2 separate regions of the Homo sapiens genome follow, and region 1 is linked to region 2. A link means that fine-mapping ties the variant in region 2 to the expression of a gene that starts in the linked region. Tissue or cell type: skeletal muscle. Region 2 holds a variant in brackets; the other region holds the start of a gene. All regions are shown on one strand. Distances are between the middles of the regions.

The links. PIP is the estimated chance that this variant, and not a neighbour inherited with it, causes the effect.
Region 1: it holds the start of CYP1A1, and the variant in region 2 is fine-mapped to the expression of CYP1A1 in skeletal muscle (FUSION, PIP 0.95).

The regions. Positions count from the first base shown.
Region 1 is chr15:74,721,444-74,729,443 of GRCh38, reverse strand. CYP1A1 (cytochrome P450 family 1 subfamily A member 1) reads left to right here and starts at 3,916. Exons shown (of 7, transcript NM_001319217.2): 1 at 3,916-4,003; 2 at 6,318-7,171; 3 at 7,727-7,853; 4 at 7,941-8,000. The coding sequence starts at 6,347. RefSeq lists enhancers at 1-286, 2,850-2,873, 2,922-2,936, 3,011-3,033, 2,172-3,371 and 1 more, silencers at 2,920-3,079, 3,079-3,188, 3,260-3,339, 3,184-3,359, 3,079-3,359, a cis regulatory region at 2,079-3,453 and a promoter at 2,304-4,208.
Region 2 is chr15:74,506,070-74,514,329 of GRCh38, reverse strand. No RefSeq gene overlaps it. Among named protein-coding and RNA genes, the nearest start is that of ARID3B, 31 kb to the left of the region's middle. RefSeq lists enhancers at 1,752-1,811, 2,122-2,171. The variant G/T (reference allele first, on the strand shown) is at 3,745.

The DNA.
Region 1 (8,000 bases), 220 kb before region 2:
TCTACCTCTTTCTACACAGACACGGCAACCATCCGATTTCTCAATCTTTTCCCCGCTTTTCCCCTCTTTCTATTCCACAAAACCGCCATTGTCATCATGGCCCGTTCTCAATGAGCTGTTGGGTACACCTCCCAGATGGGGTGGTGGCCGGGCAGAGGGGCTCCTCACTTCCCAGTAGGGGCGGCCGGGCAGAGGCGCCCCTCACCTCCCGGACGAGGCGGCTGGCCGGGCGGGGGGCTGACCCCCCCACCTCCCTCCCGGACAGGGCGGCTGGCCGGGCGGGGGGCTGACCCCCCCACCTCCCTCCCGGACGGGGCGGCTGGCCTGGCGGGGGCTGACCCCCACCTCCCTCCCGGACGGGGTGGCTGCCGGGCGGAGACGCTCCTCACTTCCCAGACGGGGTGGCTGCCGGGCGGAGGGGCTCCTCACTTCTCAGACGGGGCGGTTGCCAGGCGGAGGGTCTCCTTGATTCTCAGACGGGGCGGCCGGGCAGAGACGCTCCTCACCTCCCAGACGGGGTCGCGGCTGGGTAGAGGCGCTCCTCACATCCCAGACGGGGCAGCAGGGCAAAGGCGCTCCCCACATCTCAGACGATGGGCTGCCGGGCAGAGACGCTCCTCACTTCCTAGATGGGATGGCGGTGGGGCAGAGACGCTCCTCACTTTCCAGACTGGGCAGCCAGGCAGAGGGGCTCCTCACGTCCCAGACGATGGGCGGCCAGGCAGAGACGCTCCTCACTTCCCAGACGGGGTGGCGGCCGGGCAGAGGCTGCAATCTCGGCACTTTGGGAGGCCAAGGCAGGCGGGTGGGAGGTGGAGGTTGTAGCGAGCCGAGATCACGCCACTGCGCTCCAGCCTGGGCACCATTGAGCACTGAGTGAACCAGAATCCGTCTGCAATCCCGGCACCTCGGGAGGCCGAGGCTGGCGGATCACTCCCTGTTAGGAGCTGGAGACCAGCCCGGCCAACACAGCGAAACCCCGTCTCCACCAAAAAAATACGAAAACCAGTCAGGCGTGGCGGCGCGCGCCTGCAATCGCAGGCACTCGGCAGGCTGAGGCAGGAGAATCAGGCAGGGAGGTTGCAGTGAGCCGAGATGGCAGCAGTACAGTCCAGCTTTGGCTCGGCATCAGAGGGAGACCGTGGAAAGAGGGGACAGGGAGAGGGAGGGAGAGGGAGAGGGAGAGGGAGAGGGAGAGCTGCTAAAGATTCTTATTCCTGCCTTCAGAGTGGTGGGAGCTACCAAAGAAATTTAAGCAAGGTGGTGATGGAATGAGATTTTGCATTTTTGACAGGACCACTCTGGGTGCCACAGGATGGAGAAGTAATTGGACGGAGCAAAAGGCAAATGGGAACCTAGGTGGAGGCTAAGTGCTCCAGGGAGCAATGATGGGCCCTGGATGAGTTGTGGCAGTGGAGCTGGACAGATGCCAAAGCAGATGCCAAGCAGAGAAATGTGCCTCCTATTCTTAGCACAGTAGCCCGAGTGACCTTGCTTCTCTTACACCCCAGCCATGTCTCTATCTCGCACAGAGGAAGTCTCATGTCTCTCAATGGGGTGCTCCCTGCACATGCGGCAGGGCGCTGTGCCTCATGGGCATCCCATCCCCCTGGACTACATGCCAGGAGAACTCCCCAGTCACATGACCTCTGCACATCCCTGGTACTGCTCGGTCCTTCAAGAACCACTGTGGTGGGGGGTGGCGGGAGGCTTTGATTTTGCTTATTCCCTCTGCCAGTTGCAGTCTTTTATTTGAGATGGAGTCTCGCTCTGTCACCCAGGCTGGAGTGCAGTGGCGTGATCTCAGCTCACTGCAACATCTGCCTCCCAGGTTCAAGCAATTCTCCTGCCTGACTCCACTCCCCCCAAACCCCCCTCACCGCCCCAGTATCTGGGATTACAGGTGAGCAACACCATGCCCGGCTAATTTTTGTATTTTTGATAGAGATGGGGTTTTGCCATATTGGCCAGGCTGGTCTTGAACTCCTGACCTCAGGCGATCCTCCCGACTCGGCCTTCCAAAGTCCTGGGATTACAGGCGTGAGCCACCGCACCTGCCCAGGTACACTTTTTATCCAGATATCTATGCACATTGATTCTTGACTCCACACTCCTGCCTCTCTCCGCAAGGCCTTCCCTGACCCCCTTGTTTTGAATTGCAATCTGCCCTCACATAATCCGTACGCCTTTTCTGTTTAATTTTTTTCAACCGCACTTTTTACCCTCTCACATTCTCTAGATTTGGGGCATATTACTTGTCTCCTTCCATCAGAATGTAAACTCCACGAGATTAGGAGTGCTGTCAGCTGTGTTCCCTTCTCTGTCAATCGCCAGCGCCTCCGAACAGCTCCTGGCACATAGTAGTTGCTTGGTAAATATTTGTGCAATGCACGAGGCCGCATATGACCGGAATGGGAGGTGAGGGGATTATTTTCTGGCCTGGACCAGCGACGGATGGTGGTGCCACCGGGTTGGGGAGCACGTCGGGGATGGCGCGTAACGATGTTAGCTGGGGCCAGGTTGAGCTAGGCACGCAAATACAACTTTTTTTTTCCTGGAAACCCTGTAACAGGAAGGTTCCGGAGGGCGGGACAGCGTCGGAGGCAGGCAGCTAGGCCATGCCAAATGGCACTGGGGCTTCGTGTCGTGCCACAGGCGTGGACCGAAAATGCGGACACATGCAGGCTGCCTCTCCTCGCAGGCAGAAGCCACACGCAGACCTAGACCCTTTGCACCGCATCCCCTTATTCAATCGCGCACCCGCCACCCTTCGACAGTTCCTCTCCCTCCACCCCAACCCCACGCCGCGCGCGAGGCTGGCCCTTTAAGAGCCCCGCCCCGACTCCCTCCCCCCTCGCGTGACTGCGAGCCCCCGCGCCGGGCCGGGGAATGGGTCGGCTGGGTGGCTGCGCGGGCCTCCGGTCCTTCTCACGCAACGCCTGGGCACCGCGCCTCCGGGCCAGGTGGGGCGGGGACGGGCCGCCTGACCTCTGCCCCCTAGAGGGATGTCGCCGGCGCACGCAAGCTAGCCGGGGGTAGGGTGGGGGCTCCGCGCCAGGTGCCCCCTCCGTGGTCCCTGGGCCCGAGTCTTTCCGTGGCCCCCCGCCGCCGGATTTCTGTGCTCTGCCAATCAAAGCACTAGCCACCCCGGGAGCCAAGAGGGACCCTCAAGGGCCGGTGGGTCCTGGCTGGAGGGACCGCGCGTTGCAATCAGCACTAAGGCGATCCTAGAGGCTGCGAGGAGCCGCTAGTGAGCGCTCAGCGAGCCTGCCCCTTCGCCATCCATTCCGATCCTTCAATCAAGAGGCGCGAACCTCAGCTAGTCGCCCGGGCTCTGGGGGACAGGTCCAGCCCCGCGGCGCCTCTGGCCTTCCGGCCCCCGTGACCTCAGGGCTGGGGTCGCAGCGCTTCTCACGCGAGCCGGGACTCAGTAACCCCGGGAAGGAGGTCACCACGGGGCAGCCCCGCCCCCGCCTGCCGAGTCCTGGTAGGCTGTAGCGCTGGGGAGGCATCTGCACGCCCAGCGTTCCAGTGGGTGCAAAAATGACGAAGAGGAGTCCCCGCGCCCCAGGATGGAGCTTCCCGTACCCTCTCTTCGGGCTGTCCTGGGACTTCTCCCTCAAGCCCCCTCCTCGGCTGGGTTCTGCACTGCCCTTGGGACGCCTTGGAATTGGGACTTCCAGGTGTTCCCAGCCCTCACCCCTCTATGTACAGGCACCGAGATGTGTCCCATAGTGGGTTCTTGCCCACCCGACCCCCCACCCCCGCCGCCCTCCGCCACCTTTCTCTCCAATCCCAGAGAGACCAGCCCGGTTCAGGCTGCTTCTCCCTCCATCTCAGCTCGCTCCAGGGAAGGAGGCGTGGCCACACGTACAAGCCCGCCTATAAAGGTGGCAGTGCCTTCACCCTCACCCTGAAGGTGACAGTTCCTTGGAACCTTCCCTGATCCTTGTGATCCCAGGCTCCAAGAGTCCACCCTTCCCAGCTCAGCTCAGTACCTCAGGTGAGTTGCTGGGGGACTTCTGGCTTGCCCTTTCTCTCCCAATAAAAGGAACATTTTGGTGCCTCCAGGACTTCTTAGGTAGCTACCTGTCTAGCACCTCCAAAAAGGGAGGCTCAGAGTGTTTTTAGTGACCAGGCAGTCTAGCCCCCTAGTGGGGAAACTGAGGCCAGGGGAAGAGGAGGACTTGCCCATGGTCCCACAGCTGGTACCAGACCTCTAGATACAGATGGCATCTCATTCAGGACTTCAGGACCCAGGCTCCAGCTCCATCCCCTAGTGAGTGTCTCCCTGCCTACCCTGGGGCTTCCCCATCAAGGCCACCTGGCAGGCTGGAATATGTGCAGCCCCTCCCTCAGGCTTTCTGATGACAGGGGCTTCTCCTTGGGTGGACAGGGTGGATGGAGGGGGTGGGCTGGGTTCTTACCAGCTGTACCCTGCCCTAGCCTAAGAAGCTACCCCTGGCAGATTTTACCCTCCTAAGGGTGGCTTGTCAGTGCTGAGATGTCCTAGACAGCTGGGACAATAGAGGCAGATCTGTGCAGGAGTCCCAGGCCTTTCCTATCTCATTGACCATCTTCTTTGTCCTTTGCTGGGAGACAATCAGGGTGACAGATTGCCAACTGCAGGGAGCTGGAAATACCAGTCCCTAAAAACTCACCAGTCACATCTCCCTTGGCCTCCTACCATCTTACAAAGGCTGCAGGTCCTTGGGATACCCACTGTGCAGAAGGGGACACCATAGCACACCAAAGCCTGGCACTGTCCCCTGTTGACTCAGGGATCTAGTGTGCTTTGATATTTAGCCCCTCCAGGAAGCCTCCCTCCACTATAATACTTGTGGTAGGAACCATCCATCTCCCTGTCTTGTGAGGTTCTCCTGTGGGGAGCCTAACTGGTAAGACTGTCAGGTTCCCCACAGCAGATCTGGGTTTTCTCTTCCCTCTGGATCCAGCTGGGTACTCTGAACTGAGAGATCTTGTCTTACCCTCTCTCAGATGTTGAAATTGGACCCCAGAAAAGTAAAATGTGCAGTCCAAGATCACTTTGACTAGAATGTTGGGTCTACTGACCTCTAGTCCAGGGTAACAGGCAGAGATGCCTGATATGTTGGAGAGAGTGGTTTATGAATTTAAACACCCTTTTTAGGTCAAGCTTACAGAGAAAGTATTGCCTCAGTTTCCTTTCAGTTTAGATCCATTCCTGATTTCCCTGATTCCAGTCTGGGGTTTTCTTACAGCCTAGTGGGAACCTTCCATTTATTCTCTGCTCTCTGGTAACCTGCAAAAGGGGGAGGTCCAAACTGTTCATTCATTGAGAATTGAGCCAAAAAAAAACCCTGGCCTGGATTTCTCTGACTAAAGAGCTCAATCTAGCTGGTCTCCAGCTGCCTTTAAACTGTGGATCAGTTGAACTCAGAGAGCTGGGGCTGAAAGCAATGTGGTTTGGGAAGTGGCCATCCTGTCCCCTATCTCTTCCTCAGTCTGTCCTGGGGTCTGGTGGGATTTCCTGCATCCTGGGATTGAGCAGCAGAGAACTGAGGGTTCTGGGAAAATTCCTTCATTGATCTGACCACTCTTCAAAAGGAGGTACATGTGACAGCAGCTGGAAATTTCCAGGGAAGTGTCCCTAAGGAGTCTGAGTCCTGGCTCTGTCACTGATTGCTGGGGGACTTTGGACAAGTCAGCGCTGCTTCCCCCAAATGTTAAATGAGGCTAAAGGATCAGATGATCCCTAATTCCCCTGAGAACATGATTTTCCTAAGTGTGGTGGGTAGGACTCGGGGTGATACACCTTGATTATGTGTTTATTTTAATGTGTTAGGGGAAAAATCAAACTTGTACTTTCACATAGATATTGTTTATGATGATATGTAGGTAGATTTAAAGTTGATTTTAGGAAAATGTGAAGTAAATAACAGTACTGGTACTATGTGGAAATCACAGATTGACATTGGAAGATGTCAGTTTAGATTGGTACAGCAGTTAAGAGAAAGCGTTCTGGAATTAGGCAACTTGGCTTGGGAGTCTGCATCCAACACTTTCTGGCTGTGTGACCTTGGGCAAGTTACTTACCTTCTCTGAGCCTCATTGCAGGCTACTTCATAGATTTGTGGCCAGGGCTGAATGAAGAAGGACTGTGAAATTCTTAGCCCACAGTGGTAGTTCAACAACTTCTCCCCACCTCACCCTCTTCTTCATGCCCAGTAAGCAGTTCTGGTGGAAAGGTTTCCCCTTTCCCTGACACTCTAGATATTGGCTTTTCTCATCCCCCAATCTGACGGCTTGACTTTTTTTCTTCCTGCACCTTCTCTCAGCAGCCACCTCCAAGATCCCTACACTGATCATGCTTTTCCCAATCTCCATGTCGGCCACGGAGTTTCTTCTGGCCTCTGTCATCTTCTGTCTGGTATTCTGGGTAATCAGGGCCTCAAGACCTCAGGTCCCCAAAGGCCTGAAGAATCCACCAGGGCCATGGGGCTGGCCTCTGATTGGGCACATGCTGACCCTGGGAAAGAACCCGCACCTGGCACTGTCAAGGATGAGCCAGCAGTATGGGGACGTGCTGCAGATCCGAATTGGCTCCACACCCGTGGTGGTGCTGAGCGGCCTGGACACCATCCGGCAGGCCCTGGTGCGGCAGGGCGATGATTTCAAGGGCCGGCCCGACCTCTACACCTTCACCCTCATCAGTAATGGTCAGAGCATGTCCTTCAGCCCAGACTCTGGACCAGTGTGGGCTGCCCGCCGGCGCCTGGCCCAGAATGGCCTGAAAAGTTTCTCCATTGCCTCTGACCCAGCCTCCTCAACCTCCTGCTACCTGGAAGAGCATGTGAGCAAGGAGGCTGAGGTCCTGATAAGCACGTTGCAGGAGCTGATGGCAGGGCCTGGGCACTTTAACCCCTACAGGTATGTGGTGGTATCAGTGACCAATGTCATCTGTGCCATTTGCTTTGGCCGGCGCTATGACCACAACCACCAAGAACTGCTTAGCCTAGTCAACCTGAATAATAATTTCGGGGAGGTGGTTGGCTCTGGAAACCCAGCTGACTTCATCCCTATTCTTCGCTACCTACCCAACCCTTCCCTGAATGCCTTCAAGGACCTGAATGAGAAGTTCTACAGCTTCATGCAGAAGATGGTCAAGGAGCACTACAAAACCTTTGAGAAGGTACAGTCTGGGGAAAGGCAGGTGGGTGGTGGGAAGCAGATGGCATCAGGGCCTGGGAGGTCAAAGGTAAGAGGAACTGCATGGGGCTTGGCAAGTTCTCAGGAAGGCTTCAACCTGGGATCTTGAAGCCAGTTGTGGAATAGTCTTCTTCCTTGGCAGGGAAATAGAACTTTATCTTGACTAACCCTTCCATGCTTCCACAGACAGCAATAGCCACTGAAGAGTCATTACATGCAGGACCCTGGGGCAGTTGCTGAGGGAGCCAGGAAGAGTTAAAGAGTTCATCTCCTGGCCTCATAATAGAAAGAAGATAAAGAGCACATCCAGATGATAACAGTACAAGACGCTGTGTGTCAAATGTCCCATGAGTTGGGGCTAGCAGCATTCTAAGGTAGTAGGAGAGAGCCTTGCAGAGGCAGAGAGAAGCTGGGACAACAGCCTCAGGGGGCATCACCTCCAGAACAAATGTGCTAGGAATAGTGAAGGACCAGACCTGGATGGAGAGGTAGCTCTGGGTTTGAGATCTTGCTCACCTGTGGACTTTCCCTACCTAAGGGCCACATCCGGGACATCACAGACAGCCTGATTGAGCACTGTCAGGAGAAGCAGCTGGATGAGAACGCCAATGTCCAGCTGTCAGATGAGAAGATCATTAACATCGTCTTGGACCTCTTTGGAGCTGGTATGGTTACCCCATTGTGTCCTTCCTGTGCTCAAGTGCCCTGACCTGCTGCTGCCTGCCTAACTTCTTCTGTTCTACCCTGTCCAGGGTTTGACACAGTCACAACTGCTATCTCCTGGAGCCTCATGTATTTGGTGATGAACCCCA
Region 2 (8,260 bases):
GATGAATACATGGCTTTTACAGTTGTTTATTTACAATTCTTTCTCGAGACTCTAGGCATCTGGTGCTACGCCTCCACCTTCCTTCTGCTGAAGTCCACTTACTTTCCAGGCAGCTTTCTTGAACAGGATCCAAGGCAATGCTTCTCCAGAGCTCTTGCATGTTTGTATCATACTTAGATTAGAGAAAATATGTTCATTTGACCCATTGTTGCAAGTGCTGCTATATCCCAAATCGCAACCTCTTCTCTACCCCACAGGATGCCTGCATTAACCCTTAACCCTTTACACATCCCAGACAACTCAGACTTCAGCCCACTGTGCCTCTCAAAGACGAAGAAACACATATTCTACTATGTGATCCCAGTAAAATTCGTTTTATTAGTGTGAGGTGAGGGGCATGTACCCCTTAGGATGAGGTTGGAGGCAATGACTCAGTGACTCAGTTCAGCAATAGCTTTTTCTAAAACCTTGAGTCTTTTTTTTTTTCAATCTCTTCAACATCTTTTGCAGGCTGCGGATGGGTAGTGAATGAAGATTGAAAACTGGTTTTCTTTTCTTTTTTTTTTTTTTTTTTGAGATGGAGTCTTGCTCTGTCGCCAGGTTGGAGTGCAGTGACACTATCTTGGCTCACTGCAATCTCTGCCTCCTGGGTTCAAGTGATTCTCCTACCTCAGCCTCCCAAGTACCTGGAATTACAAGCACGTACCACCACATCCAGCTCATTTTTGTATTTTTAGTAGAGATGGAGTTTTACCATGTTGGCCAGGATGGTCTCGATCTCCTGACCTCGTGATCCACCTGCCTCGGCCTCCCAAAGTGCTGGGATTACAGGCGTCAGCCAGCGCGCCCGGCATGAAAATTGGTTTTCTATAATCTTCTTTTGCAAATCCTGTATTGGTGGACTTGCCCGTAACTTTGAAGTGTGACCTTATTGTTTTGGTGTCTCGGCCAAACTTGAGACGAGTGAGGTTCCTTTAAATATCCTATGTATGACATAACTCTGGAAGTACACATAAGGAACAGGAAATATTGGTTACCTTTGGTGGGGAATTTATTGGCTCAGGGCAGCAATGAGAGTGAGAATTTTTCACATATATACTTTTTTGAACCATTTTAATTTAAAACCATATGGTATATAATATCAATTCAAAAATTTAAATTAAAGAAATGTACCTCCTAAATATATTATAGTCATACAATGGAACACTTGGCAAATCTTAAAAAGAATGAGCTATATATCCCGATGTACAAAAATCTCAAAGAAACTGGTGTGGTAGTGTGTACCTATAGTCCCAGCTACTTGGGAGGCTGAGACTGGAGGATTGCTTGAACCCAGGAGTTTGAGTCCAGCCTGGGCAAGATAGCAAGACCCCCACCTCCACCCCACAATTACCTCTAAGGAAAAAAATAATAAAAAGAAAAATCTCAAATATCTTAAACTTGATTCTCATTTCTTAACCACAGAAAAGGCCTTTTTTTTTTTTTTGAGACAGAGTTTTGCTCTTATCACCCAGGCTGGAGTGCAATGGTGTAATCTCGGCTCACTGCAACCACTGCCTCCCAGGTTCAAGCGATTCTCCTACCTCAGCCACCTGAGTAGCTGGGATTACAAGCGCCTGCCACCATGCCTGGCTAATTTTTATATTTTTTGTAGAGACGGGGTTTCACCATGTTGGCCAGGCTGATCTCGAACTCCTGACCTCAAATGATCTGCCCGCCTCGGCTTCCCAAAGTGCTGGGATTACAGGCGTGAGCCACCGCGCCCGGCCAGAAAAGGCTTGTATTTCTCGTACATGGGCATGTATAGTGCAAGATGGACAACTTTTCAGGGCAGCTGTTTCTGCATCTGGTGACTCAGGGATCCAGGCTGTTTCCATTTTGTGGCTTCACCATCTAAATGCGTGGCTTTCACAATTGCTGCAGCAGGGGAAGAGAGAGCTGGAGAGACATAAAATGGCACTAAATGCTTTGGCCCAAGAGTGCCCAATATCATTTCTGTTCATAGCCCTTGAGCCAGAACTAGTCTCATGGTCTCAGCCTCACCGCAAAGCAGGACAGGAAATGTTGTCATCCTTTATGCCCAGAAAAAAGGAAATGAAATGAGGTTCAGTATCATATGGCATCGTGTCTACCACAAAGACACAAACAAGTAACAGGAGGAAGGGTCCTGAGGATCTAATATCAGGAGATTTACTTTTCACTATACTATTCACTCTATTTCTCTTTTTTTATACAACAAAAAGTGAGTATGTATACATACTTGTTCACTGTATTGTTTTGAATTTTTTAACCATTGGCTTGTGTATACTTTTTCAATGAAAGACTTTGTAATTTTTGCAATGGATGCTAAGATTAGTGGGTAAAAGTTTTATGAGGAACAGGATATAGTCTCAAAATATCTCCCCACAAGATACTTATTGGCCAGGCATGGTGGTTCATGCCTATAATCCCAGAGTTTTGGGAGGCTGAGGCCAAGTTGGGAGGATTACTTGAGGCCAGGAGTTGGAGATCAGCCAGGGTAACATAGCAAGACCTGTCTCTACAAAAATAAAATATTAGCCAGGCCTGGTGGCGTGCCTGTAGTCCTTGTTACTCAGGAGGATGAGGTGGGAGGATCACTGGAGCCCGGAAATTTGAGGCTGCAGTGAGTTATGATTGCGCCACTGCACTTCAGCCTGGGCAACAGAGTGAGACCCTGTCTCTAAAAAAAGAAAAAAAAAAGATACTTATTAACTAAAAATCGACAAAGAATAACTTTAAAGTGGAAAACTGGCAGACACCACCTTGACCTAAAAATAAAAATTAACATCACCAGTAGTCAGTAATGTGCCTCCTGATTTAATAAACCAAGAACACAGCATCAGTTTTAGAATATTCCTGCCAAAAATGTATAGCCTGAATCTAATCATGAGGGGAAAAAACAGATAAACCTAAAACAAGAACCTCATACAAAATATCTGGCCTGTATTCTTCAAGTGACAAAGGATCGTGGGAGGCAAAGTCAGACTGAGGAATTATTCCAGATTAAAAGAAACTAAAGAGATTTCTCAACTAAGTGCAGTGTGTGATCCTGGATTGGATCCTGAGCCAGAAAAATAATTTTTCTTTCTTGTTTTTGAGACAGAGTCTCGCTCTGTCGCCCAGGCTGGAGTGTAGTGATGCTATCTCGGCTCACTGCAACCTCCGCCTCCTGGGTTCAAGTGATTCTCCTGCCTCAGCCTCCTGAGTAGCTGGGACTACAGGTGCGCACCACCACGCCTGGCTAAGTTTTGTATTTTTAGTAGAGCCAGGGTTTCACCATGTTGGCCAGGCTGGTCTCGAACTCTTGACCTCAGATGATCTGTCCACCTCGGCTTCCCAAAGTGCTGAGATTACAGGCATGAGTCACCATGCCTGACCTTAGAAAAATAATTTTTCTTTTTGCTGTGGAAAACATTATTAAGACAGTGGAGGATATCTGAATAAGGTCTCTGGGTTAGGTAATATTATTATATCAATGTTATTATTTTTATTTTATAATTGTGCTACTGTTATACAAGAGAATACAATATTCTTGTTTTAGGAAACACATACTTAAGTATTTAGAGATACAATTTCATCCTGTTTGCAATTTATTCTCCAATGGTTCTGGAAAAATAATTTCATATATCATACATATATTTGTGTGTGTATATATGTCTGTATGCATATATATTACCTGTGTGTGTGTGTGTGTATATATATATATGTATATATATATATAGA[G/T]AGAGAGAGAGAGAGAGAGAGAGAAATGATAAAGCAAATGTGGTAAAATGTTAACATTTTGAGAATCTTAATAAACGTCATATGGGGCCGGGCGCGGTGGCTCATGCCTGTAATCCCAGCACTTTGGGAGGCCGAGGCATGCAGATCACAAGGTCAGAAGTTCAAGACCAGCCTGGCCAACATGATGAAACCCTGTCTCTACTAAAAATACAAAAATTAGTCAGGTGTGGTGGCACACACCTGTAATCCCAGCTACTTGGGAGGCTGAGGCAGGAGAATTGCTTGAACCTGGGAGACTGAGGTTGCAGTGAGCCATGACTGCACCACTGCACGCCAGCCTGGGCGACAAAGCAAGACTCCGTCTTGGGAAAAAAAAAGAAAAAAAGAAAATGATAAAGCAAATGTGGTAAAATATTAACATTTTGAGAATCTGAATAAAGGGTATATGGGGCCGGGTGCTGTGGCTCACGCCTGTAATCCCAGCAGTTTGGGAGGCCAAGGCGGGCGGATCGCTTTAGGCCAGGAGTTCGATACCAGCCTGGCCAACGTGGTGAAAGCCCGTCTCTACAAAAAACAAAAAACAAAAAAACAAAAAATACAGGCCGGGCCCTGTGGCTCACACCTGTAATCCCAACACTTTGGGAGGCCGAGGCGGGCGGATCACGAGGTCAGGAGTTCGAGACCAGCCTGGCCAGTATGGTGAAACGCTGTCTCTACTAAAAATACAAAAATTAGCAGGGTGTGGTGGCACACGCCTGTAATCCCAGCTACTCAGGAGGCTGAGGGAGAAGAATTGCTTGAAGTCGGGAGGTGGAGATTGCAGTGAGCTGAGATTGCACCACTGCACTCTAGCCTGGGCAACAGAGTGAGACTCTGTCTCAAACAAAACAAAACAAAACAACAACAACAAAAACACACAAAAATTATCTGGGCATGGTGGCAGGTACCTGTAATCCCAGCTACTCAGGGGGCTCAGGCAGGAGAATTGCTTGAACCTGGGAGACAGAGGATGCAATGAGGCGAGATCGCACCACTGCACTCCAGCCTGGGTTACAGAGTAAGACTCTGTCTCAAAAAAAAAAAAAAAAAAAAAAAGTACATGGGATGTCTTTGACCTTTCCTGAAATCATTTTGTAAGTCTGAAATTATTTCAAATAAAAAGTTGTAATAAGTCTAGGTGCAGTGGCTCACTTGTAATCCCAGTACTTTGGGAGGCCAAGGTGGGAGGATGGCTTGAGCCCGGGAGTTTGAGACCAGCCTGGGCAACATAGTAAGACTCTGTCTCTACAAAAATTTAAAAAATAGCCACCCATGGTGGCACATGTCTGTAGTCCCAGCTACTTGAGAGGCTGAGGCAGGAAGACCACTTGAGCCCAGGAGGATCACTCTTGCCACTATATTCCAGCCTGGGCAACAGAGCAAGATTCTTGTCTCCAGAAAAAAAAAAAAAAAAAAAGTTGTCATAAATGACTAGTAATTAACTACACTTATTAAATTTCTGAACTTTTGCATGAGATATAGTGCTTGTTAGTAAATTCTATTTGTAATAGAATTAAGGTCCAGAGTAATTATTTTTCACATGATATCTCACAGAATTATTGTGAGGAACAAACGTAAATATGTATGAATACGGTCTATAAACCATTATTTGAATGCATTGTTTTCACTATTATTGTTACTATTATTATTATTATCATCATCATTCTTTTTAGTTAAAGTGGGTAATTCTTACTGGGGAGTAATGGGTGCTGGTGTCAGAAAGTAACAAGAACAATATATGGAACAAGATATTGAATGCCAGGCCAGGGCACTTGAATTTTGCCTTCTGGAATACTGAAAAGTCATTGCTTACCAAAATGGCTGGGGAGAAAGTTGAATCCTTTTTCCTTCTTTTTTTTTTTTCTTTTTTAACACAGACTGCTCATCTGCAAGAAAGTTTAAGTTTTTTTGTTTGTTTGTTTTTTGGTTTTTTTTTTAGACAGGCTCTTGGTCTGTCACCCAGGCTGGAATGCAGTGGCTCGATCTCGGCTCCTTGCAACCTCTCAAGCCATCCTCCCACTTCAGCCTCCCAAGTAGCTGGAACTATAGGCACACACCACCACACCTGGCTAAGTTTTGTACTTTTCGTAGAGATGGGGTCTCGCTATGTTGTCCAGGCTGGTCTCGAACTCCTGAGCTCAAGCAATCTGCCCGCCTCAGCCTCCCAAAATGCTGGGATTACAGGTGTGAGCCGCCATGCCCAGTGGTGAATTCTTAACAGTTCTAAAAGGTATCCATAGAGATCAGATAATGGTTCAACCTCCTCATTTTGCAGTTAAGCTGGTGGATTTGGCAGATGAAGCATGTGAATTAGAGTCTTGTGGATGAAGCTGTGCAGATTCAAAGATTGAAAGGGCAGAAAAAGAAACACAAGGAGATAAGAAATGTCACATCACCAGGACCAATTACATAATTAGGAGGGCCCAGTGCAAAATGAAAATGCAGGGCCCAGGCCAGACGCGGTGGCCCACGCCTATAATCCCAGCACTTTGGGAAGCTGAGGCGGGCGGATCACCTGAGGTCGGGAGTTCCAGACCAGCCTGACCAACATGGAGAAACCCCATCTCTACTAAAAAATACCAAATTAGCTGGGTGTGGTGGCGCATGCCTGTAATCCCAGCTACTCGGGAGTCTGAGGCAGGAGAATCACTTGAACTCAGGAGGCAGAGGTTGCGGTGAGCCAAGATCGTGCCATTGCACTCTAGCCTGGGCGACAGAGCAAAACTCCATCTCAAAAAAAAAAAATTAAAAAAAAAAAGAAAAAAGAAAATGCAGGGCTCCTTGTTCGTAAGTTATTAAGAATTTCAGAATTTCAGAGATATACCTAATGTAAATGACTAATGGGTGCAGCACACCAACATGGCACATATATACATATGTAACAAACCTGCACATTGTGCACATGTACCCTAGAACTTAAAGTATAATACAAAAAAAAAAAATATATATATATATAAAAGAATTTCAAAACCATGAAAGCAGAACATTAAACCAAGCGTGGGGCCCTACTAAGTGTGGGCCTGGTGTGACAGCACAGGTTGCACACCCGTGAAGCTGGTCCTAAACATCATAACACACCAAATACATCCACATTCAGTAATTCATCCAAGGTCAGTTAAGGTCCTACTAGTGAGGTGCTTTCAGTTAAAAGGGACAGAAACCATGATTCAAACTGACTTCAATCATAAGGAAATATAGACCAGCAGAAGGTTGGTTTTTAAAAATTATTATTATTATTTCAGACAGCCACCTGCCTTGGCCTCCCAAAGTGCTGAGATCACAGGTGTGAACCACCATGCCATGCTGAGCTTCAGATTACACTTTTATTTATTTATTTATTTATTTATTTATATTTATCTTTTTTTGAGATGGAGTCTCGCTCATTTGCCCAGGCTGGAGTACAGTGGTACGATCTCGGCTCACTGCAACCTCCGCCTCCTGGGTTCAAGCGATTCACATGCCTCAGCCTCCTTAGTAGCTGGGATTACAAGCACGCACCACCACTCCCAGCTAATTTTTGTAGTTTTAGTGGAGACAAGGTTTCACCATGTTGGCTAGGCTGGTCTCAAACTCCTGACCTTAAGTGATCCGCCCACCTCAGCCTCCCAAAGTGCTGGGATTACAGGCATGAGCCACTGCTCCTGGCCTTTAAAGTATTATTATTATTTTTGAAATGGAGTGTTGCTCTGTCACCCAGGCTGAAGTGCAGTGGTCCGATCTCTGCTCACTGCAACCTCCATCTCCTGGGTTCAAGTGATTCTACTGCCTCAGCCTCCCAAGTAGTTGGGAAATATGCACCACCATACCCGACTAATTTTTGTGTTTTTAAAAATTATTATTTTATTATTTCGGGACAGGGTCTTGCTCTGTTGCCCAGGCTGTAGTGTGGTGGCACGAACATGGCTCACTGCAGTCTCCACCTCCTGGGCTCAAGTGATCCTCCTGCCCTGGCCTCCCACAGTGCTAGGATTACAATGTGAGCCACCATGCCCAGCCAGAAGGTTGTTCTTTAGGCAGAGTATGATCACTGGCACTCCATGTCACCAAAGGCCCAGCTTCTATCAGACAAGTCTCAGTGCTGTCCTCAGTGTATGGGATTTATCATCCAGCCTAACAACATCCAACATGAGTAATGATCTAACTCTTCCTGTTCTCTTTGGCAGGAACAAGGATGACTTTCCCAGGAGCCTCTTGCATCTCATTAGCTAGAATTGAGTCCTATGTCCATGGCAGGAGGAATGTGGAACCACAATTGGATTAGGCCATCAGGATGCCCTTCCTGTGGCTGAGGTGGGGGCATCTTGCCCTGAAGCACAGGGCTATGTGGGGGAGAGTGGACACCTATGCAAAGTCAGGGCTCTGGTGGGAAAGGGGAGAAGAAGCGTGGGCCACAGTGTCCGACACACTGTTATTTCCACACTGCCGGTGCAAAGGCAGGGTGGTTAGCAATGCCATGCTGTGTGACAGCTGCTTGGTT